Regions from separate parts of the Homo sapiens genome. Here region 2 is linked to region 1. Evidence: fine-mapped expression QTL. A gene starts in region 1. The other region holds a variant in brackets. All regions are shown on one strand. Distances are from middle to middle. Region 1 holds the start of PSTPIP1 (proline-serine-threonine phosphatase interacting protein 1). Region 2 holds the start of LOC105370904 (a long non-coding RNA gene).

Region 1 (15,733 bases):
CTCACTGCAGCCACAACCTCCTAGGCCCAAGTGATCTTGTCACCTCTGCTTCACAGGTAGCTGGGACTACAGGCACATGCCATCATGCCCAGCTAATTTTTTTTGTAGAGACAGGATCTTGCTTTGTCGCCCAGGCTGGTCTTGAACTCCTGAGCTCAACCGATCCGCCCACCTCAGCCTCCCAAAGTGCTGGGATTACAAGCGTGAGCCCTTGCGGCTGGCCAGAATCTTGTTTAAGCTTTAAACAAGTAACCTGCTTAAATATGTAGGCTCATCATTTCTGTTTTCCAGGTGAGGTAACTGAGTCTCAGTGAGGTGAGGCTGGACCTCTTCCAACTCTGACTCCAGGGATCATCTACCCCCGCCCCCCCCACCCCAAGTTCCACTCCTTGCACAGGCTGGGGCTTCCCTACTCCGAGCCTCAGCACATGCTGCTCCCTTTGCCTGCACACGGGCCCACCACATGTCTCTGCCTATTGATTTTCCGGCCCAGCCAAGACTGAAGTTGGGGTCTCCTGCCTCTGAATCCTAGGTTTTCAGGGAAAATTAAACACCAGCTGGGCTGAAATCAAGCTTTGCTTTACTGTGAACAAGTCATTTTCCACCTGAATTAAAACCAACCCAAGGGGGGAGAGGATGCTAGAAACACATTTTTGAAGCTGTTTTGAGAGACAGCTGCCATAATGGAAACAAAACAAAACAGGCTAGAAAAGGGGTTGGGGGGTGGGAGATGGTTATGCCTTTCCTTCCCTGTCAGTGAGATCATTCTACTGGTCCCCCTCTGGGCCCTGCTACCCCACTTATTGGGCCTCAGTTTCCCATTTGTAAAATGAGAAAGTAAGGCAATAGCAGGAGTTCTCCTCCAAGGTGTATGACTGACTCACTTACGAAACCTAAAATCTATACTCCCTGGCCCCACCCAGTCAGTAGGCCAAGGTTGGGACTTGGCCTTTTGCTTTTTTTTTTTTTTTTTTTTTTAACAAAGTCCCACTTCTGGTAGGCACACTTTGTGCTGTTTGAGCACCTCCAGATAGTCCCTGCAGGCTCTTCCATCACTGCAGTCCTCCGTCCTCTGACCAGTGATCGGGTGGCAGTGGATTCCTGGGACTCACTGAGGCCCCTTCCCCATGCCCACCAGTTCCTGGGCCACCTCCCGAAGGGCCACTTTGCACCTCTTTGCTGTCTTTCAAGAATCCTGACCGGCACTCGGCTTCTGACGACTGATAATGCTTGGAAACTCAGAGTCACACTCTTGTGGCTGCAAATTAGTAAACCTGAAAGCTCCTCGTCAACTCAGGCGAGCTGTGTGAGTGGGAAGAGGCCTTAGTTTTTGCAACTGCTGTCCCTGGGGGCAAACTGAAAAACAAACTGTATCACATCCTGAAGGCCAAAGGCCACACCCTCAGCCCCAGTGGAGGACTCTGGGGCAAGGATATTTCCTGGAGTCAGAGGAGAGGAGCCTCCATCTGAGCGCCACACCCCCACCCCGCATGGGCTCTGCACTTCCTCCTCAGTGGGGACTTGCTTTTCCCTTCTTCCTCATCCTGTTTCTGCCCCAGGCCCTGGCCCCTCACTGCCAGCCCCACACTCTGGGGAGGAAAGACCCTTTTTAGCGATGGGACTCCGAAAAGTTAACTGACCTGTCTAAGCCTCAGGTTCCTTATCTGTTGAATGTGGCCGTAATGCCTCACACTGTTGTTGGGAAGATTAAGTGATACATAAGGCATGGGAAGTGCTTACAGCAGAGCCTGATGCAGCACAGCCCTAGTAGACTATTAGCGTTATTCTGGAACTCCCTTCCTGCCTCACGGGTGAGCTCTTTCCCATTAATCAAGACCCAGCTCCCCTCCTTTGGGAGGACTTCCCAGGCCAGGCTCCTCAACAGCCTTTCTCTGTTGTCTGCGCACAGCACATTTTCCCTTCCTAGGCTGCCTCCCTCACCAGACTGGCAGGGGCTGAGCTTGTTCATTTGCATGTTCCCAGACAGGAAGGCTCAGTCAGTGCTGGTGGGTGTGCTGCAGTGGAGCTTGTTCCAATCTGGGACAGGGTAAGTGGGGTGGACAGTGGTTGCCCCAGTACAGTAGGCATGTGCCTCTGGCCACCTGGAGGGACCCTACAGGTATTTCCCCCAGCAATAGTGAACCATCATGGCCAGGTGCTGGAACATCCCACTTCAGCCATGGGATGGGTGCACAACCCTACAGCCATGGGCAGCGTCATGACAGTGCATCCACCGAGGTCTAAATGGCCGACTCATGAATGCCCTTCTGGCCATAAGCTGATGGCAGGTTGAGAATTACTCCTGCAGGACAGATGCTCCCCTGCAGAAGGGAGAAGCGTGCGTCACTTGCCCTACCCCTTGGACCAGTGGCAATGCCATCTCCAAATGAAATTCATGGCAAGGGCCTCCTGGCTCTTCGAATGTCACCAAAGAGCTTTCAGACCCTCCTTCTCTCCCTCTTCTTTCCAGCCCCTGCCCCTCTTCAGAAGGCTGGAAGCTCTCGCTTTAGATTCTTCCTGGATAACAAATTAGAATCTTAGGACCCTCAGAGTGCAGTCCCGCCCTCCAGCTTGGTGTCAGCCTCACCTCTGAGAGCTATTCCCCCAACAACGTCTTCTCTTCCAGCCCCTGAGAACTTGGCTGAACTTCCTTCAAAATGGTGTTTATTCGGCCAGGTGCAGTGGCTCACACCTATAATCCCAGCAGTTTGGGAGGCCAAGGCAGGCAGATCACCTGAGGTCAGGAGTTTGAGACCAGCCTGGCCAACACTGTGAAACCCTGTCTCTACTAAAAATATAAAAATTAGCCAAGCATGATGGTGCATGCCTGTAATCCCAGCTACTTGGGAGGCTGAGGCTGGGAGAACTGCTTGAACCTGGGAGGCAGAGTCTGCAGTGAGCCAAGACTGTGTCACTGCACTCCAGCCTGGGCGACAGAGCGAGACACTGTCCCAAAAAAAAAAAAAAAAAAAAAGGAAAAAAGAAAAAAGATGTTTATTTGCTTTCCATCTTGCCTGCATTTTGTCCATTTGTCCATCCATTTATTGGTCAGGAAAGGCTTTCCTGAAGAGGTGACATTTGATAAGAGGGCCAAGGGATAAGGAGTAGTTAGCTGGGCCAAGGCAGGGTCTAGGATGGAACGGGAAGAAGCTTCCAGGCAGAGGGGTGATCATGTGTGAAGGACCCGGGAAAGAAGAGAATGAGGCAGAATGGAGGAATTGAAAGATGGTCCAGGAAGCAGTATCAGAAATTGAGAGAGGCATAATGGGAGTTGAAGTTTTGAAGAGTAGGCTGGGACCAAATTATGCAGGGTCTGTAGGCCATGTAAGGGCAATGGCCATTGTCCTGAGAGTAATGGAAAATCATGGCAAGGTGACAGTGGGACGTTGATATGACCAAATGTGGATCTGAAAATGTCACTCTGCTGTGTAGAGAGCAGACAGGAGTGAGCAGGGTTGGTTTCATAGATGTACAACTCGTGTAAGCAAATTGTACTTGGGGTCTAATGCTCTGAGATTGCTGTCTTGGAATTCTTAATCACATTATTTTTGAATTTGCTTTTCTTAAGTACAGTCTGGTGGGACAATGAAGCATACATCAAGGACTTGGAGCCTTGGCTCCTGTGGTCCTGCTTCCAACTGCCTCCCCTGGACTTGTTCTCAGTCTTCTCCACTTCTGCCTAGCAACCACTGCCACACTCTGCCCCCAGCAGAGACCTGAGTGCAGGCATGGGGACAGTCCGGGTCAAGGGCACACCTGGTAGCATCTGAGGATTGGCCATGGCAATGTGGCCCCTGCCCCAGGCTGGCAACACCATGGCAAATTCAACAGGCGACTCAGGGGGCTGAGCCTCTCACTCACTTCTGACCCTGGTTCCTAGTGCATCCTGGCCTGGATTTTGCAACACCCCTGGGGACTGCCTGTCCGCTGTGGGTTGGTGAGGCAGGTCCATGGGAAATGGCAATGCCTGGCTTGACTTCCCCAACCTCCGCTGGGGAACGCAGAATGCAGATCAGCGTGGTGGCTGACAGGAGGAGAAGTCCAGCAACTGGTGAATTTCACACAGAACTGAGTCAAGTCAGAGGGTGGGGCGGGGCAAGTTGTCCCACAGATATTCCCATGCCCAAGGGAGTGTAACGTTAAATAACAAATCAAAAACACCATTCCAGGTTGAGAGAGAGACTGCAGTAAAGAAACAAGTTTTATAGATTAGTACCTTTAACGGCAATTTTGTCCCTGCTTTTTGAGTAAGAGGTCTCACATTTTTATTTTGCACTGGACTCGCAAATTATGTAGCTGTCCAGGCAGTGAGCAATCAGTGAGATCAAGCTTGTGAAAGTGATGGAGGTCCTGTAAATATTGATCCTCCTTCTGTGGCAGCTGTTGTTACTGGTTTTGTTGTTTCTGTGGCTCAGAGGGATGGATGAAGTGTCTTCAGGAGCGGAGTCCTGCCAGTCAGTGGTGGGGGCTGTGACAATAAATGTTATAAAAACTGATTTTGCATTTTATTCTCAATCCTTGTAGCTACTGCTTCTTGAATTCTTCAAGCAGATGTGTTCAGATACCAGGCAAAACAGGCAGGGGCTCTGCCTGGGAGGGGTATGCCCCCACAGCCTGGCCTGAGGCACAACTGCACAGACCTCAAGGCAAATTGTTTTGAAGCAGCTGGAACAGTCACTAAAAAGCGGTGATTTTCAGGGATGGATTCCTCTCCCCAAGGGCCTGGGCCTGGGTGTGGGTGGGGCTGGTGTGAATAGGGGCCCCCTAAGACAGTACTCTTTTCTGAGGGGCACTCAGACATCTCAGTCTTGCTCCTCCATCTCCCTGACATCCCACCAATCCACTCAAGCCCCATCGCACCTGCCCCAACCAGACCTCATTCCTGTAAAAGTCATCACAATATCTTCTTCTGGTCTCACCCGCTCTGAGCCACTCCTTATGGAGAAAGAACTCCCTAGAACCTGTCTGTCAGTCTCTAGGCCCCTCAGAGCAAAAACCAAGTCTGCCTCCCCTTGAGGCCCCGGTCCCAGCAGGACCCTGCAGGAGTTGGTGCTCAGCAGTGCTTGTGTGCCTGGGCTGAGGAGAAGGTTGTGGTGGTCACGTGGTTGGCTTTCGGCATCCCCGGCTGCCCATTCGCAAGGCCAACCATGGGGAAGTATGAGCACGTGACCCACCTAGGGCCAAGGAGACACAAGGGAAGGTCTCCTGGGGAGCTGGGCAGAAGGGAGGGTGCAGGGGCTTTGGAGAAAATGAGACACAAGGGCAGGTGTCCTTTTCTTTCTCTGCTTGTGGCTGTGTCTGGAGTTGTAGATGAGCTGCTGCAGCTCCTTGGCCTCCAGCCCAAGGAGGAAGATCGTAAATGCAAGAGAAACTCAGAGAGACTGAGCTGAAGCCCTCATGTACCACAGCTGGAGGCTGCCCTGCCTCCAGCCCCGTTGTGTAGATGACAGCACACGTCCTCTGTGTCAGACCCTCTGGTTTATGTTCTTTGCAGCCAAAAGCATCCTCAACTGATGCGAATAACACAGTGATGCAGAATAGCATGTGCTAAAGGCTGGCCTCTCATTCCTATGGCACCATCAGCCCCGGTGGCTTCCCTAGATTGTTTTTCCTTTTATTGACTTGGGTGAGAGGGTCTCGAGGTAGAACTGGAGAAAGGAACAATGAAACGCTTTTTGAATAGAGGGCTGTTAGTAAAAGACAACTGTGGAAGTTAAGAGCGTGTGCTTTGGCTTCGGACAGATCTAGGACCAAAGCCCAGCCTTCTGCTTATTGCCTGCTACTTGGGTGCGTTACTTACACTCTTTAATCACTAGTTTGCCCCTCTGTAAAGTGGGGATAATGACAGTGTAACTGAGGTGGTCCGTGTGAAAAGCAGAATGATGTACCCGGTGCTGGGTAAGTACTCCAAAGCCGAATTGGCTGTCTGGTCGCCCAGCCTGGGGACCTGCAACAGGTAAGGGTGGAAGGGAGGGGAGGAGGAAGGCCTCTCTAGTAGAGAATTGCAGAGTCTCTCCAGAGGTTCCTCACATTACTTCCTTCCCCAGTTGCTCCAGCCCGTCACCAGCATGGCCCTCCATCCGGGGCTGCCCTGGCTGGACAGGTACAGTTGGGAAAGGAAGGCCTCATGTGTGGGAGCCTTGAGGTTGGCTTTGAGGGTGGGAGGATTTGCCCAGGTAAGGAAGATCAAGGAAGGCTTGCCAGAAGGGAGGCTGGGAACAGAGCAGGTGGGAGTGGGAAAGGTGCCTCCAGGGAGAGGGAAGAGGCCTGGCTGGAGCAGAAGTCTCTGGGAGGTGATGGGAAGGACACCTAGAGAGGCAGGGCAGGGAGCCCAGCTGTAAAAATTTCTGCCAATAAGCAGGCAGGAGCCTTCTGTTAACAGAGGGTCTCTAGTCTGCTCCAGACCTAGAGGCATCATCCCATCTGATGGATGGAGAAACTGAGCTCAGGGAGGCTGAGCCAGTGCTATCAGAGGTGGTGGTGCCATTGGGAGGTGAGGTGCAGCCTGGCTCACTCTATGGCCTACAAAGTTCAAGGGGATTTTTACACTATTAATTGTCTTCAGCTGCAAGTAACAAAAAACCTGACTGGGGCGCCTTACAGATTAAAGATTAGCTCAAATCCAAGGTTTCTGGAGGTGAGGGCCTTCTGGGGGCAGTCCCATTGCTCTGCAATCCTCCCCAAAGTGTTTCCTCTTGGGTGGCTATTTCAGAGCCTGGGTGTGCCCCCTCTCTCTAAACCCTGGGCATGCATAATGGGCACTTGGGAGCTCAACTATTTCATCTGCAGCAGCTCTCATCTTATCACCCCGTCAGCTGTAAGGCAGACATCAGTGAGGGTGGTGATTTGCGGACAATCCCTGACTCACCCCATTTTGCCAGCCTGCCCTGGGCTCAGGACTTCCTGCTGCATCTTCTGCTGAGCCGGCAGGGCGTGGCGTCTCAGGGCTGGGGCTGGGGCTCTAGTCCAGGGCTCTTCCTAAGGTGGTACCACACAGTGCCCCCAGCACCTGCCCACCAAACTGGAAATTCCAGAAATATTCTCGACACCGTCTACTTTCCAAAGACTGGGTGTGGCAGATGAGGAAGCTGAGGCTCAGCGAGTTGGGGGGTCTATTAAGGTCCCTCAGCCCCTGAAAGGTGGGGTCAAAATTAAACAAAAACTGGGCCTCAGACTGGGTTTCCAAACACCCCACTCTGTGCCTTGATAATCCTGTTTCTCTCTCCATCCATTCCCATTCACTGAGCCGGAAGCCTCCATCTTCAGAAGGGGGTTCTCTGCCCCAAACAGCGTCTAATCTGGAGACTTGCGGTGGTGGCGGTGGTGGTGGTGGGGGCAGTGCCGGGGCCTCAGGCTGTTCTCCCTCATCTTGCTGCCTGCTCACCTTGCCTCTGTGTGCTCACAGCCCCCCAGAGCACAGCTGTGTCTGCTCCCAGACTATGGGCTCCTTGAGGGCAGGACCTGGTTTGGGTCCCAGAGCAGCCAGGGTTTGATGAATGACAGATGCCCTAGACCTGGGTAAGCCCCTCCAGAATGACTTGCTAGTGCGGGGTGGGGAGTCTGGCATCTCTGGGCCCAGCCTGGAAGGGTGCTGGACTGGCTGGCGGGTGACACACCTGGGGTTCCTGGGCCCCTCCTGGCCACACTGTCAGTGGGCCTCAAGCTCCCTTAGCATATGGCCTCTGGAATAAAGTGAGCCCGCACCTCGGGAGGGGGCAAGCAGAGGCAGGAGCAGGATGGCAGGTGGCAGGCGGGGCTGCACAGGGGAGCACAGCAACTCCACTTCCTGTGGGCGAGGGCCCTGTGCCTGCCCCGGGGGAGGTTGCACAAACCTTCCTGCGCAGGCCTCGGGCTGCCTGCCTGCCTGCCTGCCTGGCCCGGCCCGAGCTCCAGCCTGCCTCTTCCACTGGCCACTGCCTCCCACCCAGGGCTGGCATCCCTGCTCCCTGCCCTGGGTCCCAGACTGTGTCCTCCATCACCGCAGGGTCGGTGAGGGGCTGGGCTGGACACCAGGGCCCGCCCTCCCATCACTGAGCTCCACTCCTTCCTCATTTTGCTGCTGATTCTAGCCCCAAACAAAACAGGTTGAGCTTTTTCCTCCCCTCAGAAGCTCCTCTCTGGCTCGTGGCTGCCTTCTGAGTGTTGCAGACGGCGCCGGCCGGGAAGGGGGGCCTGGGCCAGCCCTGCCAGGACTGGGACGCTGCTGCTGGCGCCTGGCCCTCCATCAGGCCAGCCTGTGGCAGGAGAGTGAGCTTTGCCGCGGCAGACGCCTGAGGATGATGCCCCAGCTGCAGTTCAAAGATGCCTTTTGGGTGAGTGAGGATGGTTGGGGGCACTGAACAAGTGGAGGGGGCAGAGCTAGGCTGAAATCTCCATGCAGGTGATGGGATGCGGCTCCGAGAGGGGAGCTTTCTCATAAAATAGTGGTTGATTCTTGGTCTTAATTGTCATGGAGGTGGCCCAGGCCCCCACCCCTTCTGGACTGGAACGCAAGTGGACTCCGTGAATGAGCGTCCTCCTCTCTGCTGCCCCGTGTGTTTTCTCCTCTGGGAGACCTCTCCCCACAGCAGGAGCTCCTCAGAAGAGGGTAACACATGGGTGGGGGCTTGAGGAGGATGTGTGGGGCAGCAAAGGAGGGGTCACAGATTTAGAGACCAGACAAACTTGAGTTCAGGTCTTGGCTCTGTTACAGGCTGGGCAAGTCATTTCTGTCTCCAAGCCTCAGTCTCTCCATCTATATAATGGTGATAAAATAGAAATCAACACACCAACTAAAGCATTGGATCAGCAAGGGGATCCAAGGCACTAAAGCCCCCAGCACCTTGCCTCACTCCAAATGGTAATTCTGTTCCCCTCACCCAGCCCCTTGTCCCTTGCAGACCTTAGGGGTCCTTCAAGGAGGCAGCCAGGTGGGCAATGGCTTGCTTACTTTCTTAAATTCAACACGGGCTTAAATCAAGTCATTTCCCCCATGAAATAAGGGCGCCCAGCCAGTGGTAGAGGTAAAGTGGCTTGGCCCGGGCCACGTAGCCTGCAGCCCAGCTTGGACCCCTGGTCATCTCAGCACTTTTCCAGCTGTCCTTCAACTACCCCTCTGCCCCTCAGCTCTGGCTGTGCCCAGGGCTCTGGGGAAAAACTGAGACCTCTCTGGTTGGAGCTGGGGAATGTGGCTGTCCCGGGGTGCTGCCTCCAACCCCGAAGAGGACGCTCTGGCCCTCGGCTCAGCCGGCTGAGCCCCAGCCAACAGCCCTGCCCTCCCCGGGCCTTTTCCTGGGGCTGCAGCCAGGAGGATGAGAGCTATGGAGCCAGGCCTTCCTTCCCTTCCGGCCGGCTCCACTTGGGGCCTGTGGCCAGCGTGTGAGTGTTCTGCTTCCTCTGCTCTGACTGTACAGTAGGCAAAGGACCCCACGTGGGGAGGGCACCTTGTGCCTTTCTGGGCCTCAGTTTCCCCATCTCTACAAAGACAGGGTGGGCCCAGCCCAGAGAAGCCAATGGAGGCAGAGCTGCCTCAGCCCATCCGGAGGACCAGGCACCAGGATGCTCAGGGCCCAGGCTGGCAGCTGGAGCCCTGGGGGATGGGGGATGTGAGTCACCACCTAGCTGCCCTGCCTTGGTGTGCAAAGTTGGGGGAAGGGGTAGGGCCTGGAAACCCAGGCCACTCTGTAGCCCAGGGCAGGCCAGGACCCCTTGACTATTTTATCACTGAGACCTCTGTCCAGTCCTAGAGCCCCTGGGCCTGCCTTCCCTAGGGCAGAGCTGGGCAAGGAGCAGCCTCCATGGCAGGATCTGGGCACAGGTAGGGGTGGCGTATAAGGGAGCAGGGTATGGCAGCCGCAGCAGAAGCAAGCAGCCAGCCCCTGTGGAGCTTCCTGAGCGGCATCCTGCCCACACTCTGTGCTCGTCGCACCTCTGGGCTTCCTGGCCTCCAAGTGCCTTGTCTCCTCTGTGTCTGGCTCCCTGAGCCTGGGGCGGGCATATAGTTTCCCTAGGGAAGGCCAGAGCAGGAAGGGGAGAGAAGTAGCCAGTGGGAACCTCTCACACTGAGTCTGGGCCGATGCCCCGAAAGGTCACTGTAGGCATCACCTGCCCCAGGGCTCTGGATTCTAATACCTCTTCCTGATGCTCAGCCCATCCCAGTGCATAACAACTAACATTTGCTGAGCACGAAAGATGTGCCAGGCGCTGTTCTCAAGATGTATGCATATTCACTCATTCAATCCTTCAAACACATGCTACTGTTATCTCTCTTATTCAGATGAGGAAATTGAGGCACGGAGATATTAAGAGACTTGCGCAAGGTCACACTGCTGGGATTAAACCCCTGGCAGGCTGGCTTTAGCACTTGTGTTGTTGCAGGATCCCTCTGTCTATCTGACATATCACTGGATCTTTTGGCTTCGGGGTAAGATAAGAGGTAACCCCTCTTATCTCCCAGAGGGGTAAGAAAATCAGACAAGGTGGCTAGAACAATATTCTGAAGCTTCATTTGTAGACAAATCTGTAAAACAGAAAAGGCACACTACTCTGGCCACAGGTGTTATATTAGGAACAGCCCAGCCAGCTTGGCCCATGTCTGGGCCTTCCCCCACCCCAGCCCAAGGCACTGTCATTAAACCCTTCAGCCTGCCAGCACACTGTTTAGAAATGACTGGTTTTTAGGCGGGGTGCAGTGGTTCACGCCTGTAATCCCAGCACTCTGGGAGGCCAAGGTGGATGGATCACTTGAGGTCAGGAGTTCAAGACCAGCCTGGCCAACATGGTGAAACCCTGTCTCTACTAAAAATACAAAAATTAGCCAGGCGTGATGGCATGCTCCTGTAATCCCAGCTACTTGGGAGGCTGAGGCAGGAGAACAGCTTGAACCCAAGAGGCAGAGGTTGCAGTGAGCTGAGATTGTGCCACTGTACTCTAGCCTGGGTGACAGAGCTGACAGAGTGGAGGGACCCTACTTTGGCTAAACTGGAAAGATCATGTTTGATATCACAGCCCCTCAGTTATTGGGCAACCTCACCCATACAGAACACGGGGCGGAGGAGGGGAGCCAGCCCTGCTGTTTCTGGCTTTAGCTCACAGTAAGGGAGGAAGCAAAAGTGGTTTCTCAGGAGCCAAAGATGATTTCCCTAAGAGCTTTCCTTAAAGCTCATATACTACACTCCTAGGAGATGTCCCCTAGCTTTTACTCAGGTCCTATGAACTCTAATTTCACCCACAATTTTAATGAGCTTGGTCATGGGGTCTTTTAGCCTATAGATGTAGCAATTAGTGGCAGTCTGCACAGTACCTGATATACAGTTGGCGATGGATAAATGCTGATGGACCTGGACTACGAAAGGACGTTTCACAGGCAGCTAGCAGCCTGATTGCAAGGAAGGAGACAGAAACAGTCTGAAAAGCAGCTGTAGTGGCACAGAAGTAGTGGGGACACTCAGCATGGGAGCAGACACAGTCCTGTCCCTCAGTCGGCCTGTTTTTGCAATTTTGTCAGTGTGGCCACACAGTATTTATTTATAGCCTGATTTTAGCTGCAGCCGAGTGTTCAGATGCACGCTGCTGTAGGAGTGAGGCAGGGCGGACCAGCCACAGAGGGAGGGAAGGGATAATGTGATTTCTGTGATACACACAGATGATAAAGAGCATCACACCTTGGCAGGAAGTTTGTAAATGAGCCTCAGAGTGGGACCTGTCAGTGAGACAAGGTTGAATCTGAGAATACCAGCTGTCTGAGCGGAGAGGGCACTGGCCTAGCACTGAGTCTAAGGCGCTGGGAAGCCCAGAGAAGGAAGGGTCCTCCCCCTGCCCCCAGTTTGTCGTGGCTCCACTCCCAGCAGGTGGCCAAATTATTGCAAGAAATGTCTGTCTGTATCCTCTGCACAGGGCTGACAAGTGGGGTACTGGCTGAGGACGTGTTCATAGAATAAATGAATGGACAGTGAATGTCTCCATGGTCCATCTCCCTTCCTGAACCCATTTTTTACTTCATTTCACTTTTTTTTTTTTTTGAGAAAGAATCTTACTCTGTCACCCAGGCTGGAGGGCAGTGGCACAATCTCAGCTCACTGCAACCTCCGCCTCCTGGGGTCAGGTGATTCTCCTGTCTCAGCCTCCCGAGTAGCTGGGATTACAGACGTGCGCCGCCACGTCTGTCTAATTTTTGTATTTTTAGTACAGATGAGATTTCACCATGTTGGCCTGGCTGGTCTCGAACTCCTGACCTCAGATGATCCACCCGCCTCAGCCTTCCAAAGTGCTGGGATTACAGGCGTGAGCCGCCGCGCCCAGCACTACATTTCACTTTTGTTATATTCTGCAAATATTTGGTGAGTAGGGCTGTCTACTAGGTGGTCCACGCTGGACCCCTGAGCTTCTTCACCCTGCAACATCTAATCAGATGAATGAAACTGTCTTGACCTGAAGGAAGCCATAGTTCAGTGCCGGGGCTGGAGGAATAACTGGGTCAGGCAAGGAGTGCTCTGAGAGGAGCAGTATCTCAACTGTGCCATCCTCTCCCAGGTCCCCCATCCCCCGCAACCTGTATGTCTATCCAATGGCCTTTGCAAAGATGTCATTAGATATTGTTTTAAGAGGGAAAATCTAGTTCTGGACCAGATTCTATTGAGATCCACATCCTATTCCTTTTAGGGTAGTTAAAAGGAAAAGTAAGGACCTGGGGAGGCTGGGTCACATGCACTGCAGTGACTGTCACCCACCCTTTGGGTGGGAACCACCAAGGGGGTATGGGGACAATAGGCCTGAACTTTCCCCTTGACATGTGGGTGTATCTCTCCTTTGAGGCTGGGCTCTGGCTCTATCTAGAAACCCCTGTGCCACACTGGGAGGAGCTGAGCCTCCCCAAGCCCATTTAACAGGTGACAGCACCGCTGCCGAGTGGGGCAGTGACTCACCAGCTTCACACAGTGGGACCAGCTGGGCTGGTCTGCCCCTTCCCTATGTGGCACTCAGCCACTGGTGCCTTTTCCCTTCCCAGTTCTGAGATGCTGAGGTGCCCATTTATGAGGCTACAGAGAAGGGGACTGAGGGGCCCTACTCTGATCTGTCATAAAGCTGCCTGTCCCTACCCCCAGACCTGTCTACCATGGCCCAGGGGCATCAGGAGAGCCTGACATTTGCTGGGCACCTGTTCCATCCTGGGCATTTAAAGAGAGATATATATATATATATACACACACACACACACACACACACACATACACACACACACTTTCTAAAGAAACAAAATCAACTAATATAAGATCCTAAAAGGAAAGTGGGGAAATGGAGAAAAATAGGAAAAGAAGAAGCACCTTTAGTCTCATCACACAACTGCTAATATTATGCTGTGTTTGCATAAGATTGCCTTACATAGGTGCAAGCATATTGTGTACATAATTTTGTATTTTCCCTTTCTTTTACAAATTTTTTATTTTTGCAGAGATGAGGTCTCCCTGTGTTGCCCAGGCTGGTCTCAAACTCTTGGGCTCAAGCAATCCTCCTGCCTTGGCTTCCAGAGTGCTGGGATTACAGGCGTGAGCCACCATGCACGGCCCTCCCTCCTTTTTTTTTCTAGTATTTTAAATTTTATTTTAAATTGTAGCGAAATACACATAAAATGTACCATCTTAACCATTTTTGTGGTGTATGGTTCAGTAGCGCTAGGTTTGTTCACACTTTGCCACCCTCCCCTTTTTTTAGCGTAACTCACTCCATCGGGAACACCTGTGGGTGTGGACATGGGTTCCTCATTTTCAGCAACACCACTGTTCATGGCTGCACAGTTCTCTAGCTTGTGAATTTGGTGACCATGCTGTGATTTTTTTTGCCCAGTCCTCCACTGCTGAACATTTAGGTTACTGCCAATTATTTATTATTCTGGACAGTGACACCATGGGTAGATCTTTGACTATAAAGGTTTTTCACTTGGGGATTATTTCTTTGGGCAGAGGAGGCTAATGGCTATTTTCCAGGGAAGGAGGCATTTCTGGGTGAAAGAGTGGGGCCAGTTCTCCAGCCATGGGTACTAGCAGTCACTTTGGGATCCCCCATAGTCCTCTGGTTGGGCAGGAGCTTTTTCACACAGGAAGGAGGGACCCCAGAATGGCCTGGAAGGGTCAGGGCCTGTGGATGGGGCCCTGCTGGAAACCAGAGCCTGCACTGACTTTGTGGAAGGCCTTGCAGCCCAGCAAACTGCTGTGGCTTTGAGGGCCAAGGAGGCCAGTGGCTGAGGAGTGGCCCTGGTGCACTCAGAGCTTGCAGACAGTGCAGGAGGTGGGAGAGAGAGGCCCTGGCCATCCTGCCTTTGCTGCCACCAAGTACCTTCCCGGCACCTGCCTGGCTGCATCTGTCAGAAGCAGTGAGGACGGAGGCTCTCCCTTTCCTGATTGGGAAAGCTCTTTAAGACCTGGTGTTCCCTGTAAAAAGCAGAGAGCCTGGCAGTGCACCTGGTCGGCAACCCGTTGTGAAAAGTGGGGAAATAAGCATTTATACTGGCGCAGGCTTGTAGTATTAACAACAAAAATCTGTGGACGGATGCACAGGGAGCTAATTAAAGTGGTTGCCTGTTGGGAGAATGAGAGAAAGGAGATGGATGAGGGATGAGGCTGAGCGGCTGTGAACGTTTTCAGGATTGATGTTTTTATACTGTTTGATTTTTGAACCATATGAATGTATTAATTATTCAAAAATTAAATCAAACAATTAAAAATGAAAAAGAGGACATTTATTTCAAGTCCCATGAAGAATTTTTCCCTGAATCCCAGCTACTTACATCATCCCCTGAGGAGCAGCAATGCTGCCATTTGCTGAGTGCCTGTTCCATGCCAGGCATGCTGCCATTCAGTCCACATGCCCCCAAACGCATTGTCAGTGTCTTCCTGACTCTGTGATGGGACCTAAGGCACGGCAGGTCTAGGCCCAGACGAGGGTCACCTGTGCAGGGTAGAGCAGGGACTCCCACCTAGGTCTGTCGAACTCTATTGCCCTCTGCCCTGAATTCTAGAGAGTTTGTTCTTGCTTCTACTTTAATTTGTGTAGGATGAAAGGATGCTTCCCTACATGTTAACACTGGTGTCTATGGATTTGGAAGTAGGATTCTCTCCATCCCCCATCTAATTTTCTGCAAGTCAATACAGAGTACCTTTGTCATTAAAAAGAAAATATTTAAAAAGAAAACTAAGCAATTCCTGCTTTCAAGAATGAGTTGGTGTTTCTAGGCCAAATTTGTGGTTTGCTAGCATGCCCTTTTCCACATGCTCGGTGCATATTTTGTGGTACGTGGGCCTCTGGGGACCAAGAACTTCGTTCATCTGTGCCCATTCCACAGGACGTGGCCGGCTGCTCAGGTGTTAGAAGATTGCAGAGGTTTGTGGTCATGCTTGCTTTGCTTTTGCGATGCCTGCAGATGGTCACTGCCAGGATTTGCTGGCTGCAGGGTTCTGGGTCGATTTGGTGTTCTGAATTCAATTTTATTCTTGATAAAAAACAAGATCTGCTTCTTGATGACCCACTTTGTGCTCCAGTCCCCTGGAACCCACATGCTTTTCCTGGCTGCTCCTGACATCTACACAGAACTAGGGCAGCCCCTGGGATGGAGAAGGAGGGCCTTGCTTTGGGCTTTGAAGGGTGGGTGAGGATTTGAGACATGTCAGGAGGACAAACGGCACTCAAGGTGGGAGGTACGGCATGGGCAAAGGTGTGGAAGGGGGTTTGGAAGACAGTTTTCTGGCCCAGAGCATTGTGC
Region 2 (15,733 bases), 22 kb before region 1:
CTCAGGAAGAAGCCCAGGTAAGCCCAGGCAGCTGTGGATTGTGCAGGCCCTGGCACACGCTTTCCTACTGGGCACTTAGAAACACTTCTGTGCCTTGCAACCTTGCTTTCTTTGGGGATATTTCTCCATGGACATTGATAAGATTTGGCTGCATCCCTACCCAAATCTCATCTTGAATTGTAGCTCCCATAATCCCCACATGCCGTGGAAGGAACCCAGTGGGAAGTAATTGAATCATGGGGGGTGGGTTTTTTCCTCTGCTCATCTAGTGATAGCGAGTAAGTCTCACAAGATCGAGTGGTTTTATAAAGGGCAGTTCCCCTGCACACACTCTCTTGCCTGGTACCATGAAAGACGTGCCTTTGCTCCTCCTTCGCCTTCCACCATGATTGTGAGGCTTTCCCAGCCATGTGGAACTCTGAATCCATTAAACAAACCTCTTTTTCTTTATAAATTACCCAGTCTCTGGTATTTCTTCATAGCAGTATGAAAATGGACTAATATAGCCGTGTACTCCAGTGGCTCTTAAAATGCAGTTCCGTGACCCGTAGCATCAGCATCACCTGGGAACGGGTAAGAATGCAAATACCCAGGCCCCATCCAGACCTCCGAATCAGAAACTCTCGAGCGAGCCCAGAAATCTGTGGGTTTTGTTTGTTTGTTTGTTTGTTTGTTTTGAGATGGAGTCTCACTCTTGTTGCCCAGGCTAGAGTGCAATGGCACGATCTCGGCTCACTGCAACCTCTGCCTCCTGGGTTCAAGCAGTTCTCCTGCCTCAGCCTCCTGAGTAGCTGGGATTACAGGCATGTGCCACCACACCTAGCTAATTTTGTATTTTTAGTAGGGATGGGGTTTCACCATGTTGGTCAGGCTGGTCTCAAACTCCCGACCTCATGTGATCCACCCGCCTTGGCCACCCAAAGTGCTGGGATTACAGGCGTGAGTCATTGTGCCCGGCCTGAAATCTGTGTTTTAACAAGTCCTCTGGGGGATTCTCATGCACAGTCGGAACCATCGATTTCAACATGATTCTACTGGAATGGTTCATCAAATGGCTTTACTTGTAGTTTAGTCTTTATTCTTTGCTTCACAATTCTGTGCACCTGAAGTATCCTCATCGTAAGGCTGCTGTTACCCTGTCAGCAACAACTGTGAATGGAGGGAAGGGGGGACTTGGGAGGTGGGCAGCCTTCAATCTTCACACCTTTAAAAGGGGCAAGAACTCACAAGCGGAAAAACAACAACATTTACTCTAAAGAGAAAAGCAATTGCTATTTGGAAACAGTGGCAGAGCAAATTGAGGTGATAACCATAAAACATTTTTACTTCTGACAAGAGAGTCCCTTTAGGGCAGGTAATGGTCTGTTAAATATCAAAGGAGCAGACCAAAGACCTAAGGACACTTAATATGGAGAAGGGATGAGCTGGGGAGAGGGAAGGGATGTGGGCTCTGTCTCAAGGAGCCACAGCCCCGTCATGTAGAAGAGGACCAGGAACAAGAGGCATATGCAGTGAGCCATGAAAAAACAGTTGGGGGCTTCTTCTGATACAGAGCTAACCAACAATGGGATGGCATCTTAGGAGTAAAAAGGAGTTCCTGGCACTGGGAGTATGTAAGTCTGTATGGTCGCATGACAGAGATGCCATAGTAAAGGCAATTCTTGTATCAGGCAAGAAACTGCACCAGGGTCAATATTTTGCAGACTTTAAAATCATGTTTTAAAGCAGAACTCTTTCTTCGAATGAGATAATACACCATGGTACCACAATTTATAAAACAAAGCGGGGCCTCTTTGGTGATCCCTGGAATAGGGATCTGGAGCCCTCCCATGTGGACACCTCTTTGGAATATCCTGGGTGCATATCAAGTCCTTTCCGACAGGAGCTCCTTTGATTCTGTGGTTCTTTGAGAATTTTCCAAACCGGAACTTCTGCTCCCCTCCCAGGCTTTTCCTGAGCTGCCCACACACTTCCTTGGATGTGGTGTCACCAAGGTGGTGATGTTTATGGGGAAGGGGAAAGACGTGAGTGTGTGCACTGCTGCAGCCACATACCTCACATGCCCCTCTCCAGGGATGGCACACGGTGAGGGCTTTCCATGCTGGGGTCAAGGATTGCAGGGGCAGCAGATGGCAGAGGCTGCAATTTGAGTTTAACCAAGCCTTTCACCACCTTTGGTGCAGACAGGAGAAAAGGCAGGGAGCCCCAAAGCCTGCGCCAATGGGAAGGGCAGGGGTAGAATTGGTTTTGCCATGCTGGGGGAAACCTGTCTTGAAGGTAGCCTAGGAGACTGTCAGAGCCTGCCCTGGTGGTGGGATTTCAGAGGTGAACCTGGGGGACTTCCCAGACTCTAAAGGGGCCAAATGTGAGAAGGCCCATGGACTTGCCACAGAGGGGAGGGCCGCCAGCCAGGGCCTGCCTTTGTCTGCCCAGACTTGCTGGCTCTGAGTCTGTTTTTTCCAACAGAACCAGAACTTTGTCATAAAATTCTTGGACTACTTGAGTTTCTGGATTAGAAAGTCTCCTCCTCACCCCCTCCTCACCCCCTCCCCACCCCCACAATGATGATAGCTCCAGTCTTTCTCATAAACACCTAACAAGAGTAAAATGTTTTCCCTTCAGAAGGATAACAAAAAGAATAACACCAAGGAGATTTCGTTATAGTGCAGCTGCTTCTCTGGTTGGCAAGAGACACAGCTGTAACCTGGAGCTGTTTTTGTTTATTTGAAAGGAAAGGCAAGACAAGTATTCATTAATTCCACAAACATTTACTGAGCCCACAGAGCCACTGGGATTCTGCTGGTCACTGGGGAGATACATATATATGTATATGTATAATACCTATATATAGGTATTATATAATATACCTATATATGTGTATTTAATATACCTATATAATATACCTATATATAAAATATATATGTATATGTATGTGTGTGTGTGTATATATATATATAATATATATGTATATAAAATGTATAAAACTGGGTCTTGCTCTGTTTCCCAGGCTGGAGCGCAGTAGTGCCATCTTAGCTCACTGCTGCCTTGAACTCCTGGGCTCAAGAGATCCTCCCACCTCAGCCTCCCAAGTAGCTGGAACTACAGAAGCAGCCACCACACCTGGCTAATTTTTTAATTTTTTGTAGAGATGGGGTTTTGCTATGTCACCCAGGCTGATCTCAAATGCCTGAGCTCAAGTAATTCTCCTGCCTGGGCCTTCCAAAGCACTGTGATTACAGGCATGAGTCACTGTGCCCAGCCATTGAGGATATTAAGTCAGCCCCAGCTCTGAAGGTGCCATCAGTGAGGAGGAGATGGACATAAGAAAATCACAGCCCAGGTTCTAAAGGCCTCATCTTCTTTAAAAAAAAAAAAAAAAAGAAAAGAAAAGAAAAAAGAAAGAAAGAAAATCACAGCCTGGAAATCCGTGAATTGACACTGATAAGTTCACACAGGCTATACAGTTAGCCAGGTGAAGAAAAGAAGGATACCAAGCCTTCTAAGCAGAGAGTAGAGCATGTGTGGGCAGCCCAGAGTCAGGGAAGTGTGGGCTTCCTCCTTGGTAGAGAGGGGCATGAGAGGTGCTGGGTAGAGAGGGCCAGAATGTTATAGGAAAGGCATCCTGATCCAGACCCCAAGAGAGGGTTCTTGGATCTTGCACAAGAAATAATTCAGGGTAAGTCCGCAGTGCAATGTAAAAGCAAGTTTATTAAGAAGGTAAAGTGGTGAAAGGACGGCTACTCCATAGACAGAGCAGGACGTTCCCGAAAGTAAGAGGAGGAAGGCGTCCACCCTGGGTACAATGCTTGTATATATGGAGAGATGTGCTCTGCTACAAGGGTTTGTGATAAAGGATTAATTTTCTTAATTATGATATTTTGCAAGAATTGATATTATTATCTTTAAAGCAAAATTAGGAATGCCTGTGTTCTCCAGATATCAGGATATCTGGACATTCCCGTCTGGGTCTGTTTAGTAAACATTATTAATTTTTTCCCTTAACTGTAAATATCTAGAGGCCAGGAATGCCTGACTTTCTGAGAATGCAGCCCAGCAATTCCCAGCCCCATTTTCCTAGCCCTTACTCAAAATGGAGTCGCTCTGGTTCGAATGCCTCTGACAAGAAGATAGACCAATATGAGGGGCCAGGCAGGTCTGGTGGGTGCTGTCTGTCAAGCTGAATTTGGACTTTATCCTATGAATGATCAAAAACTGTTGATGGGTTTTAAGCAGGGGAGAGTCTTGACCACATTGGTAATATAGAAAAACTCTGTGAAATAAGGATGTACAGGATTTGCATCTAAAATGAACTCAGATCAAAATACAAAAGGCAAGCCTGCCGTGGTGGCTCACATCTGTAATCCCAGCGCTTTGGGAGACTGAGGTGGGTGGATGACTTGAGGCCAGGAATTGGAGACTAGCCTGGCCAACATGGTGAAACCCTGTCTGTACTAAAAAAATACAAAAATTAGCCGGGTATGGTGGCGCGTGCCTGTAGTCCCAGCTATTCACAAGGCTGAGGCAGGAGAATCACTTGAACCCAGGAGACAGAGGTTGCAGTGAGCCCAGATCAAGCCACTGCACTCCAGCCTAGGCGACAGAGCAAGACTCTGTCTCAAAACAAAACATAATCAAAAAAGGCAATTAGTTGCAGGACTATTTGTAATGAGAAACAGCCCAAATGTCTGTCAATAGGCTGGCTGAATGAACTATGGTACAGCCATGCCAAGAAGTACTAGGTAGCTGGAGAAAGAAGTGAAGACTGTTTCCATATAGAATATATCATTAAGAAAAGGAATGTGTGTCTCACAGTTCTCTAAGGAAGGCAGGGATGCAAATATATAAACATGTAAATGTATCTGCTTATATTTAAAAGCACACAAGCAATGGAAGGATAAAGCAATGAAAAGTGGCTACCTGTAGGAGGAGAGAGGGAGCAGAACGGAAGAGATAGAGATGGAAGCTGGACTTATTTGAAGATAGCTTGTTTTGTACATGTGACTTTGGAACTGAGTAAATATTTCATAAAAGTAAAAAAATTACATAAAAATGAATCCCCCCAAAAAGAAGCAAATAAACATAATGTGCATCTGGTTGGTGGAGTCAGCACACAGATGAACTGTTCTAAACACAGTAATTTGACTGTACAACCCCAAAAGGATATAGCCTGAAGACAAAAAGAACTGCAAATACACAAACGAAAATCTTAAATTGTTTTCAGCAGTCACTTGGCTGATGGGAGACTTGGTATTGGTGTTCTGAGACTGTTGTGTGCAGTGTGGAATGAAGCAAATGAGAAATTATGTGAAATTCTAATTCTGGAATTCCTGGTGTTTTTGAGAAATGAGATTCTGGACATGGGAGAAAGGAGGTACAGATGGAAGAAGGAAGAGGTTGTGCAAACACCCTGTAGACCTAAATTTAATTGAAAGTATCAATATGAACTTATGATGTGCCTTATATTTATATTGAGAAAAAATGTATTTCCTAGTTCTGACCTCAGAAAAGACCTAAGAACAATAAGCATTTCAGTAGCTATGAGCACCCCAGTACCTAGATTATCTTCTTGAAATATACCCAGTAAAAGAACTAGTGTTCCCTGAAAAAGTGATTGATTCCAGGTCTGAGACAGGAAATGGACAACAGGTGACTGGAACATTGGCCATATCAGATGGCAAGAAAGTTCTCTAAGACAGCTAGGGTGGTGTCCAAAGGACTCAGGAGTCAACTTGAAGAGGCCCCCTCTGGCCAAAGATGGGACCATTTTTGCATCAATAAAGGCAAAAATTGCAATGGATTGAAGCACATCAAATATGTTTAACTCCATGAGTTCATAATGATACTAAAACATATCTAATTGGTCACCTTTGGAGTATTCGGTGGTTCATAAACTGATAAAGAGAAATAATTGAGCATTTATCCCGCCTATACTGTACAAACTACTACTGGGTAACCAAATAGTAGATAAGGAGACGTTTCTCTTTATAGAAGTAATTCAGCTCGTAAATCAAGAAGAAATGGTAGAATTAGAATATTGCCATGTGGCAATCCCTAATTAATGGATAGTGGCACTGATCAGCAATGTCTGCTAATATCACAAATTGAGATAACCAGACCTCATAGGCCTCCTATGAAGTATTCTTGCCAAAAAATTGGACCTGAATCTAGATTCAAATGGCAATTTACAGGAAATACAGGAGATAGAAGAAAATATTAAAGGACACAATGGATATGCAATCAGTCATTCTATACTGTGGGAAGCTCTACAGGATAAATGATCTAGTTTCTTTCTTTCTCTTTTCTTTTCTTTGTTTTTGAGACAGGGTCTCGTCTGTCACCCATGCTGGAGTGCAGCAGCATGATCACAGCTCACTGCAGCCTCAATCTCCCAGACTCAAGTGATCCTCCTGCCTCAGCCCCCCTGAGGAGCTGGGACTACAGGTGCACACCACCATACCTGGCTAATTTTTGGTTTTGTTTTTTGGCAGAGACAGGGTTTTGCTATGTTGCCCATGCTGGTCTCAAACTCCTGGGCTCAAGTGATCCACCCTCCTCGGCCTACCAATTTCTGGGATTACAGGTGTGAGCCACTGCACTGGGCCTTATTATCTAGTTTCTTAAACAAATAGGCTGTAAAGAAAAACAGACAGACATGTAAAGGAAACTGATAGTTAAAAGAATCACAACCTGCAAAACTTATTTAGATCAAGATTCAAACAATCTGAACAGAATAAAATAATTTTTTGGTGACATATGAAACACAATTAGAAATTTGAACACTGGCTGAATATTTGATTATATTAAAATTATTGTCAATTGTTTTTAAGTGGGATATTGTGGCTATGATTATTTTCAAGAGTTTTAAAGGGAGAAGAAACATAAATACTTCTCAAAACTCTCTTCAAAATCATCTTCCTTCACCAGTTTCCTCTCTGCTTAGAATAAGCTTGTTATTTCAAACTCAGGGCCAATGCAATGTGAAGATGAAAAATAATTTGGGGAGCAAAATATATCGTGGATATACATATGTAAAAATATAGTATGTATACTTACATTCCCAGTTAAGTATAGTATTCCTAAGTCAATTTATAGAATTTTCAAGCACATTTAAAAAATAGTACTGAATTATTGAAAATACCACCGAAATTCCTTCCAGCTATGTGACTATGCAGAAGTTCCAGATTAAAAAGTCCTTAACATAAGAGAGATGTTATGTAATCGTCTTTGCCTATGAAGTTAATGTCCAGATTTTGGACAAAAACATGTTCACCTCATATCCTAAAAATAAGTATTTTAAGTCTTTTCCATACAGGTGCCAGAGAGTCATGTGTTCATTTTATTAACACCAGAGGCAATAACACAGTGCTAAAAATAAGCACGTGTCTATGCATGTATTTTTAACTACAGGAATGGCATTATGTTATAAAAATCTCACTTGGTTTCCTACTTTTCTCATTAAACACTTTGATTTTAAGATATATCCATTATATCCATAATGCGTGTACTTGCAGTGCAGCAACCCCACTTTCCTTATCTACTCCCGGGCCGGCGGACTCTCCCGCCGCCCCTCGCTCCCTCCTCATAGGCACAGGAACAGAATTTCTGAGTCATAAGACTGATACAGACGTTTCAGTCTGGAAAACTGCAAGCACGGCAGATGCCAAAACCCCTTTCCTGTGCCTGAAAGAGAACTTCTGGAGGTATGAAGGGCAATAATGCCTCCCATCCTCCCTGTGGCTCCAGAATTAACTCTCGAAACAACAGGATTTGGGGTAGGAAGGTTACAGCTAAGGAGCCGCCAGTCCCCACCCATCTGCTCTGGGAGAAGTTATCTCGAGGTCCAGTTAAGCGGTCCAGCAACTCCGAAGGACTCGCTGGAAAGTCCTGCACACCAAGCTTGCCCCTTCTGCATAGCTCGGGGTAGGGAGCAGCCACCTCTTGTCTCAAGACTGAGGAGGCCTGGGGCAGGGCGGGGCAGGCAGAAGACTTGAGCAGGGACACCCTGGGATGAGGTGGTGCCTCCTTGATCGCTGCACCTGCCCCTGCACCTGGGGTGGGTCTGAGGGGAACAGCATCACTAACTGCTGGACTGAAGCCACCATAGGAAGCTCAGGCTTCTTGGGCTAAATAAAATTCAGAAATGTCCAGACTGGCTGTGACACCAGGCTCTTCAAGCAGCCCTGACACAGGGGGTCTAGGGGGCTTTTGCTGACTTCTGCTGCTCCACCTTCCTGGGCTCTAGGAGGCGCTGTTCCTCCAGCATCCAAGAATCAGCCTGAACCAACGGCAGCTGCCAGG[C/T]GACAGCTCAGAGCCCAGTGGGGGTGGTAAAGACCATTCAGATAAAGGCTTGGGGAAGAACAATGGAAATTGTTCCCGGCAGCACCCAAACCTGGAAAACTCTTTTGGGGCAGAGCTTGGGTGTCTCCTGCCTTGATCTCAGTGCCATCTTTCTCCCCTGGCTCCAGAAGTTTCTTCTATTCTTCCAGATTTTCCAAATGCAGACCAAGAGGGATTGAGCTCTCCTCTACCCTGCCTGGCCCAGAAGTTCCATTTCCTACCTCCTTCTAGCAGGGGAGCAGGGGCCTTCCTTGGTGGCCCCCAGGATGGCCCTATCTCAGAAAGACACAACCACGACTTCTCTGTATAATAGACACCACCACACAGTAAGTAGTGGGAGGATGGGGTGGGGAGGGACTTTTATTTGTCCTTTAGGCCCTTAACCCATGGCATGACTCTGATGGTTAAGGACAGCCTGGGACAAGTCCAGTGAGATTAGGGTAGGAGAGTGGGGAGGTGAGTAAGACCCCATGGGGGTGTGAGTGCCTCTGAGGCAACCTAGAGTGGAGGTGGAGGGGGTGGCAGACCCTTAGGAAATAAGCATGACCCCTGGCTGGGTAAGGGCACCCACTATGAGGGTAACAGTCACTCGTTCATCCCACAACCATTTTTGATATCTGTAGGTGTCAGGTACCATGCTAGTTGAAGGATATAATTGTGAACAAGTGATGTGTGGGTCTTAGTGTCGAAGAGCTGACATTGGAGGATATCAGAGACAAAAATCAAGTAAGCAAATACAGCATTGTTAACTGCAGTAAGAACGAGGAGGACAGACACAGGCCCACAAGGAGGTCCGGGTGGCTCCTGGCATCAGGGCCATATGTAGCTCAGCTTGGGGTTCAGGGTCCTAACTCCAGCTCTGGCAGGCTGGAGGAAGAGTCCCACATCCAGATGAAGTGGCACTTATGGGTCTGAAAGATATAAGCCCGGGTCTAGGGGCTGAGTGGTCCTGTATGCCAGGGGGCATGCCAGGAGCTTCACCATGTTAATGTGCTTCATCCAGAGAGGAAGCTGACCACCAGCAATGCTTGTGAGACTGGCTGCTGGCTGCCTTCTTATTCTCCTCTTGGGTCAGGGCTGACCCTCTGATGGGGTGGGGCTGAGGCTGGCCAGCAGGGAGGCCAAGCTGTTGGATCAGAGGAAGGCGATGTCAGACACCAGCCCCTGTCACCCACCAGCTCTTCCCTTCCCATTGTCCCTGGCTGGCCCTGGCCCAGCCTCTCCAGCATCCTCATTTGCCTCCCTGCCTCCGGCTCACCCTGCCCACATATCCACCAGGGGCTGCCGTTGTTTCTCTGATTAGTTACTGTGTTGCTGCCAAATTAATGCTTCTAAACCATATTTTATAACAGCAGCCTTCATCTGCAGAGAATCTTTGAAAATACTTGGCTTGGCATTTAAAGTGGTACAAAAATGTGGCCTTACTGAATTTTTACAGCTTTATTTATCCTTTCAGAGGTGCATCCTGCACGTATGTCAAACTGTGGGTCCTCATCCCTCTGCCACACCTCTGCTCAGTTATCTTTCTCTCCTTCAACCCCCCTCCCTGCCACCCTCCTGCATCCCTCTGGGTAGTGAAACAGCCCCTTATTCAGTCAGCCAGCCTTGCATTCAGCAGGCTCTGCAGGCTCCCACTCTGTGCCCGCCATTCCTGGGCAGCACTAGGACCCCCCCTGCTCTGACACCTCATCCACTTGTTTTGTAATCTTATTAATCTTCATTTATTAACTCCTGAATGAGACCTTATCCTTCTGCTCCTCTGAACTGTAACCCTTCAATGGCAGAGGCTGCATCTTGCCCATTCCTTGGCCTCATGGTTCCCTGCCTGTGGCAGGGGTCAATAAATGTGCTACATGACCTGGACTAACATGGGCTCTGGAAGGAAAGCACTAAATACTGGCCTGGGGGCTGGAACTCAGTCTCAGCTCTGCCACTTAACTGCTGGATAGTCTCTGGAACATTACTGTCTTTTTCTGAGCCCCAGGATCCCCAGCTATAACATGCGGCTGCCATCCGTGTCTTGGTTACCTTACTAGGCTAAGGTGGGAGACTGCAGGTGCGGGCTGTTATTATAAGGGTTTTCCCTGAGGGTGGGGTGTGTACTGGGGCAGGGGGAGATATTGTGTTTCTTGGTGCCTCTTGGCCATAAGACCTGAGCAAAGCCAGCATGAAGCCCCTCCACAACCCTCAGATGGCAACCCAGGGGGTTAAGGCGGGGGGGATGTGAGGCAATGGCCAGCAACCCCATACACACCTGTTTAGGTGAGTTGCAGATAAGGTGCTCTTATGCTCCCAGGGCTTTCTGCCAGCATTGAGGAGAAACAGGAGCTCTTCTCCAGCCAGGTGAACATGGCCTCGCTTGGCAAGCTTGCAGTCCTACATTCCGGTAGGTTACAGGCTGCTTCCAGTAACGCAGGGAAGCTGGGGAAGGATGAGTTGGGACATTTTATTATGGTGGACTATCTGAGTGGAAATGGATAGCTGAGCCCTCTGAGGACCCGCAGCCTCATTACCCAGAGGGGAAACCAAGGTTCACGCAGGAGAAGGGGCTTGTCCAAGGTCACTTTTGCAGTCTTGTCTCTAAGAATATGGATTTTGGAGACAGGGAGATTTGAATTCTGCCACTTACTAGCTATAAGAGCTTGAGCAAATTTCAAGCCCTGAGGCTTAGTTTCTGCAAATGTTAATGAGGAATCACAATTCTGATATTTTATTGCTATGAAGATTAGAGGAAATGATAGATGAAGAGCTTGCTCCTGAGTGGCTGTTCAGGCCTCCAGCCCCAAGTCCCTAGGCATAGGATGATGGGGGAACTGCTGAGAAGGGCCTTCTTGTTTCTCAGGCAACAAAACTGCCAAAGGCTTTAGGAGAGAATCCTAGTGGGGTTTGGGTTGGGGGAACTCTGATTTCAAGGAAGTGAGTGGCTTGGGATCTGGTCCAGCCTTCCCGTCCTTTCCTTTCATTCATCTGCTCATTCATTCCACAGATGTGGATTAAGCATCCACTCAGGGACAGATTCTGTCCTGGATGCTGCTCTATCAAAGAGAACTAAAACCCAACTGCTCCCCACCCTAAATGCTCACAGTCCAGTGGAGAAAGAGAGAGAGAGACAAGGCAAAGAGACACTGTCAGAGTGAAATTGCTGTTAGAGGTGTGTGCATGACACACGGGGAACCCTGAGGAAGTGGAGCTGCTGAAGAGTCATGCTTCCTTTTTTTTTTTTTTTTTAACTGCAGAGCACTTTGTTATGGTTGAGACCTACCTTTCTGTATAATTTTATAACCTGCTATTTCTTCTTAAATTTTTTTTAGAAATGAGGTCTCACTATGTTGCCCAGGCTGGAGTTCAGTGGCTATTCACAGGTGCAGTCCCACTGATCAGCATGGGAGTTCTGACCTGCTCCATTTTGGATCTGGGCTGGTTCACCCCTCCTTGGGCAACCTGGTGGTCCCCCGCTCCTGGGAGGTCACCTTGTTGATGTCAAACTTAGTGTGGACATCCAATCAGCACAGCACACTGCAGCCCAGAACTCCTGAACTCAAGCGATCCTCCTGCCTCAGCCTCCCAAGTAGCTAGGACTACAGGCACGTGCCACCGCATCCAGCTATTATTATTTTTAGTTAACATGTAGTAATTGTACATATTTATGGGATACAGTGTGCTATTTCAATACATGTATATGATCCATAATGATCAAATCAGGGTAATTAGCATACCCATCACCTCAAACATTTATCTTTTTTTTTTTTTTTTTTTTTTTTTTTGTGATGGAGTCTCATTCTGTCACCCAGGCTGGAGTGCAGTGGCATGATCTCAGCTCACTGTAACGTCCACCTCCAGGGCTCAAGTGATTCTCCTGCCTCAGCCTCCCAAGTGGCTGGAATTACAGGCACTCACCACCATCCCCAGCTAATTTTTGTCTTTTTAGTAGAGATAGGGTTTCACCATGTTGGCCAGGCTGGTCTTGAACTGTTGAACTCAGTGATCTGCCCGCCTTGGCCTCCCAAAGTGCTGGGATTACAGGCATGAGCCACCGCATCCAGCCCATTTATCATTTATTTGTGTTGGGAACATTTAAAATCCACTCTTCTAGCAATTTTTAAATATACAATAAATTGTTAATTATAGTCATCCTAGGGTGTTATAGAACACGAGGGCTTATTCCTCGTATCTAGTTGTGATTCAGTATCCTTTAACCTCTCACTATCCCCCACCCTTCCCAGGGTTTAGTAACCGCTATTCTACTTTCTACTTCTACGCACTCAACTTTTTTAGCTCCCACATATGAGTGAGAACATGTGGTATTTTTCTTCCTGTCCTTGGCTTATTTCACTTAACATGATGTCCTCCATGCTCATCTGTATTGCTGTGAATGTCAAGATTTCATTTTTTTTCTGGCTGGATAGTATTCCACTGTGTATGTATACCAGATTTTCTTTATCCATTCATCCACTGATAGACACTTAGATTGATTCCATATCTTTGCTATTGTGAATAATGCTGCAATAAATATGGGAGTGGAGATAGCTCTTCAATATACTGATTTCCTTTCCTTTGGATGTATACCCTCTAGTGGGACTGTGGGATCATATGTTAGTTCTATTTTTAGATTTTTGAGGAAACTTTATACTGGTTTTCATAATGGCTGTACTAATTTACATTTCCATGAATAGCATATAAGACATCTTTCTCCACATCCTCAGCATTTGTTATTTTTTGTCATTTTTATGGTAGTCATTCTAATTGGGATGGGATGATATCCCATCACCATTTTGATTTGCATTTTCCTGATGATTATTGATGTCACACATTTTTTCATATACCTGTTGGCCATTTGTATGTCTTTGAGAGATGTCTATTCAGCTCATTTGCCCATTTTGAAATGAGATTATTTGTTTTTTTGCTGTTGAGTTATTTGAGTTCCTTGTGTATTCTTGATATTAGTCTTTTGTCAGATAGATAGTTTGCAAATATTTTCTCCCATTCTGCAGGCTGTCTCTTCACTCTGTTGATTGTTTCCTTTGCTGTACAGAAGCTTTTTAGTTTGATCTAATTCCATTTGTCTATTTTTTGCTTTTGTTGCCTGTGCATTTGAGGTCTCCATTAAATCTTTGCCCAGACCAATCCAATGTCCTGAAGTGTTTCCTCTATGTTTTCTTCTAGTAGTTTTAGTTTTTGCTTTTCTTTCTTTTTCTTTTTCTTTTTCTTTTTTTTTTTTTTTTTTTGGCATAGCTAGCTGAGGTTTTCTTTTGGAAAAAAAAATCGAATTGGCTTGTAGCTGGAGGCATGGCCAAGTGGGACACCCCAGGCAGTAAACTCCCCCTGCGGGTGGGCTTCAACCTCCCCCACAGGCTCTGGGGCAGCCGCAGGAGGGATAGGCTGGGCGGGGCTGCCATGGCCGTTCACCTGGGCAGGACGTCTGAGGACTAGGACACCAGCTTCCCATCGCGGGTCTCCATCTTCTTCACAACCATGGAGCTGGTGCGGCTGAAGGAGCTGGAGCCTCCAGCCAGAGCCAAAGCTGGAGCCCAGGCCGTAAGCTGAGGCTGGGGCTTGTGACGCCCCCGTAGCCCGAGCTCAGCACATCAGCATAGCCACTGGTAGTCTTCGTTTGGATACTCATGTTCTGCATCCCAGACGCCAGCCGGCTCTCCTCGCCCTCCAGCAGCTTCCTGTAGGTGGGATTTCCATGTCCAGGACCAGCCTGACGTTCATCAGCTCCTGGTACTCAGGCAGCTGCCGCACCATGTCCTGCTTGGCCTGCCGCAGGGCGGCCTCCAGCTCGGACAACTTGGCATTGGCGTCCTTAACAGCCAGCTCCCCGCGCTGCTCGGCATCTACCATGGCGGCCTCCAGGGAAGCCCTCTGGTCTTTGAGGCCCTCAATCTCAGCCTGGAGCCGGCTGATGTTCCAGTTCATCTCCGAGATCTCAGTCTTTGTGCACTGCAAGTCATCGCCGTGCTTCCCAGCCAGCGTCTGCAGCTCCTCATGCTTGCTCTGGTGCATGCTCTCAGCCTCAGCCCGGCTGCGGTTGGCGATCTCCTCATACTGTGCCTTGACCTCAGTGATGATGCTATCCGTGTCCAGGCAGCGGCTGTTGTCCATGGACAGCACCACAGGCGTGTGGGAAATCTGGGACGGCAGCTCCTGGATCTCCTCTTCATACAGTTGCCTGAGGAAGTTGATCTCATCAGTCAGCGCTTCCAGGCCAGACTCCAGCTGTACCTTGTTTATGTAAGCTTCATCCACATCCTTCTTGAGGAGGACAAATTCATTCTCCATCTCTGCACGCTCATTGATCTCATCATCCTACTTGTTCTTGAAGTCCTCAACCAGCCCCTGCATGTTGCCAAGCCCTGCCTCCAGCTTCAGCTTGTCCTGGCCCAGAGTCTCCAGCTGCTGCCAAAGGTTGTTGATGTAGCTCTCGAACTGGTGGTCCACGTTGCTCCGAGCCTTCTTCTGCTGCTGCACGAGGCTCCACTTGGTCTCCAGCATCTTGTTCTGCTGCTCCAGGAACTGTACCTTGTCGATGAAGGAGGCAAACTTGTTGTTGAGGCTCTTGATGTGCTCCTTCTCCTGGGTGTGCATGGCCTGGATGTTGGGGTCCACCTCCAGGTTAAGGGGGCTCAGCAGGCTCTGGATGATCATGACAGCTGTGATGCCTCCGATACTGCTGGCCCTGCCATAGCCTCCACCCAGGCCACCCTGGAAGCTGCTGCTGCCCACTCAGGAGAAGCTCAAGGAGCTGATGTGGGCACCAGGCCCACTCATGTAGGAGCGGCTGCTGAAGGCCTGGGGGCCAGAGGTGGACACCTTATAGGACTTCTAGGTCACCCTGATGGACATGGTGGAGGCAGGAGTGGAGGCAGATGGGCTGAACCAGGTGGACATTCAAGAAGGAGCAGAGAAGCTGCTTCTAGGTCCCTTCTAGTAGTTTTCTAGTTTGGGGTCTTACATTTAAGTTTTTCATTAATTTGGATTTAATTTTTTTAATGATGAGAGATAAGGATCTAGTTTCATTTTTCTGCATATAGATATCCAGTTTTCCCCATACCCATTTATTAAAGAGACTGTCCTTTCCCCCAAAGGACATTATTGGCAGCTTTGTTGAAAATCAGTAGACTGTAAATACATGGATTTATTTCTGGGTTGTCTATTCTGTTCCATTGATCTATGTGTCTGTTTTTATGCCAGTACCATGCTGTTTTGGTTACTATAGATTTTTTTAGTAAATTTTGAAGTCAGGTAAAGCTAGAGGTGTGATGACTCCAGCTTTATCCTTTTTGCTTAAGATTTATTTGGCTGGCCACGTGCGGTGGCTCACACCTGTAACCCCAGCACTTTGGGAGGCCGAGGTGGGCAGATCATGAGGTCAGGAGATCAAGACCATCCTGGC

What was found.
Region 2: its variant is fine-mapped to the expression of PSTPIP1 in aorta (GTEx, PIP 0.97).

Annotation. Positions count from the first base shown.
Region 1 is chr15:76,987,298-77,003,030 of GRCh38, forward strand. It overlaps PSTPIP1 (proline-serine-threonine phosphatase interacting protein 1), which reads left to right and starts at 7,829. Exons shown (of 15, transcript NM_003978.5): 1 at 7,829-8,312. The coding sequence starts at 8,277. RefSeq lists enhancers at 1,075-1,234, 7,534-7,583 and a silencer at 7,824-8,013.
Region 2 is chr15:76,965,269-76,981,001 of GRCh38, forward strand. It overlaps LOC105370904 (a long non-coding RNA gene), which reads left to right and starts at 7,636. Exons shown (of 3, transcript XR_932492.2): 1 at 7,636-7,700; 2 at 8,487-8,663. It also overlaps the pseudogene RN7SL278P and the pseudogene KRT8P23. The variant C/T (reference allele first, on the strand shown) is at 8,299.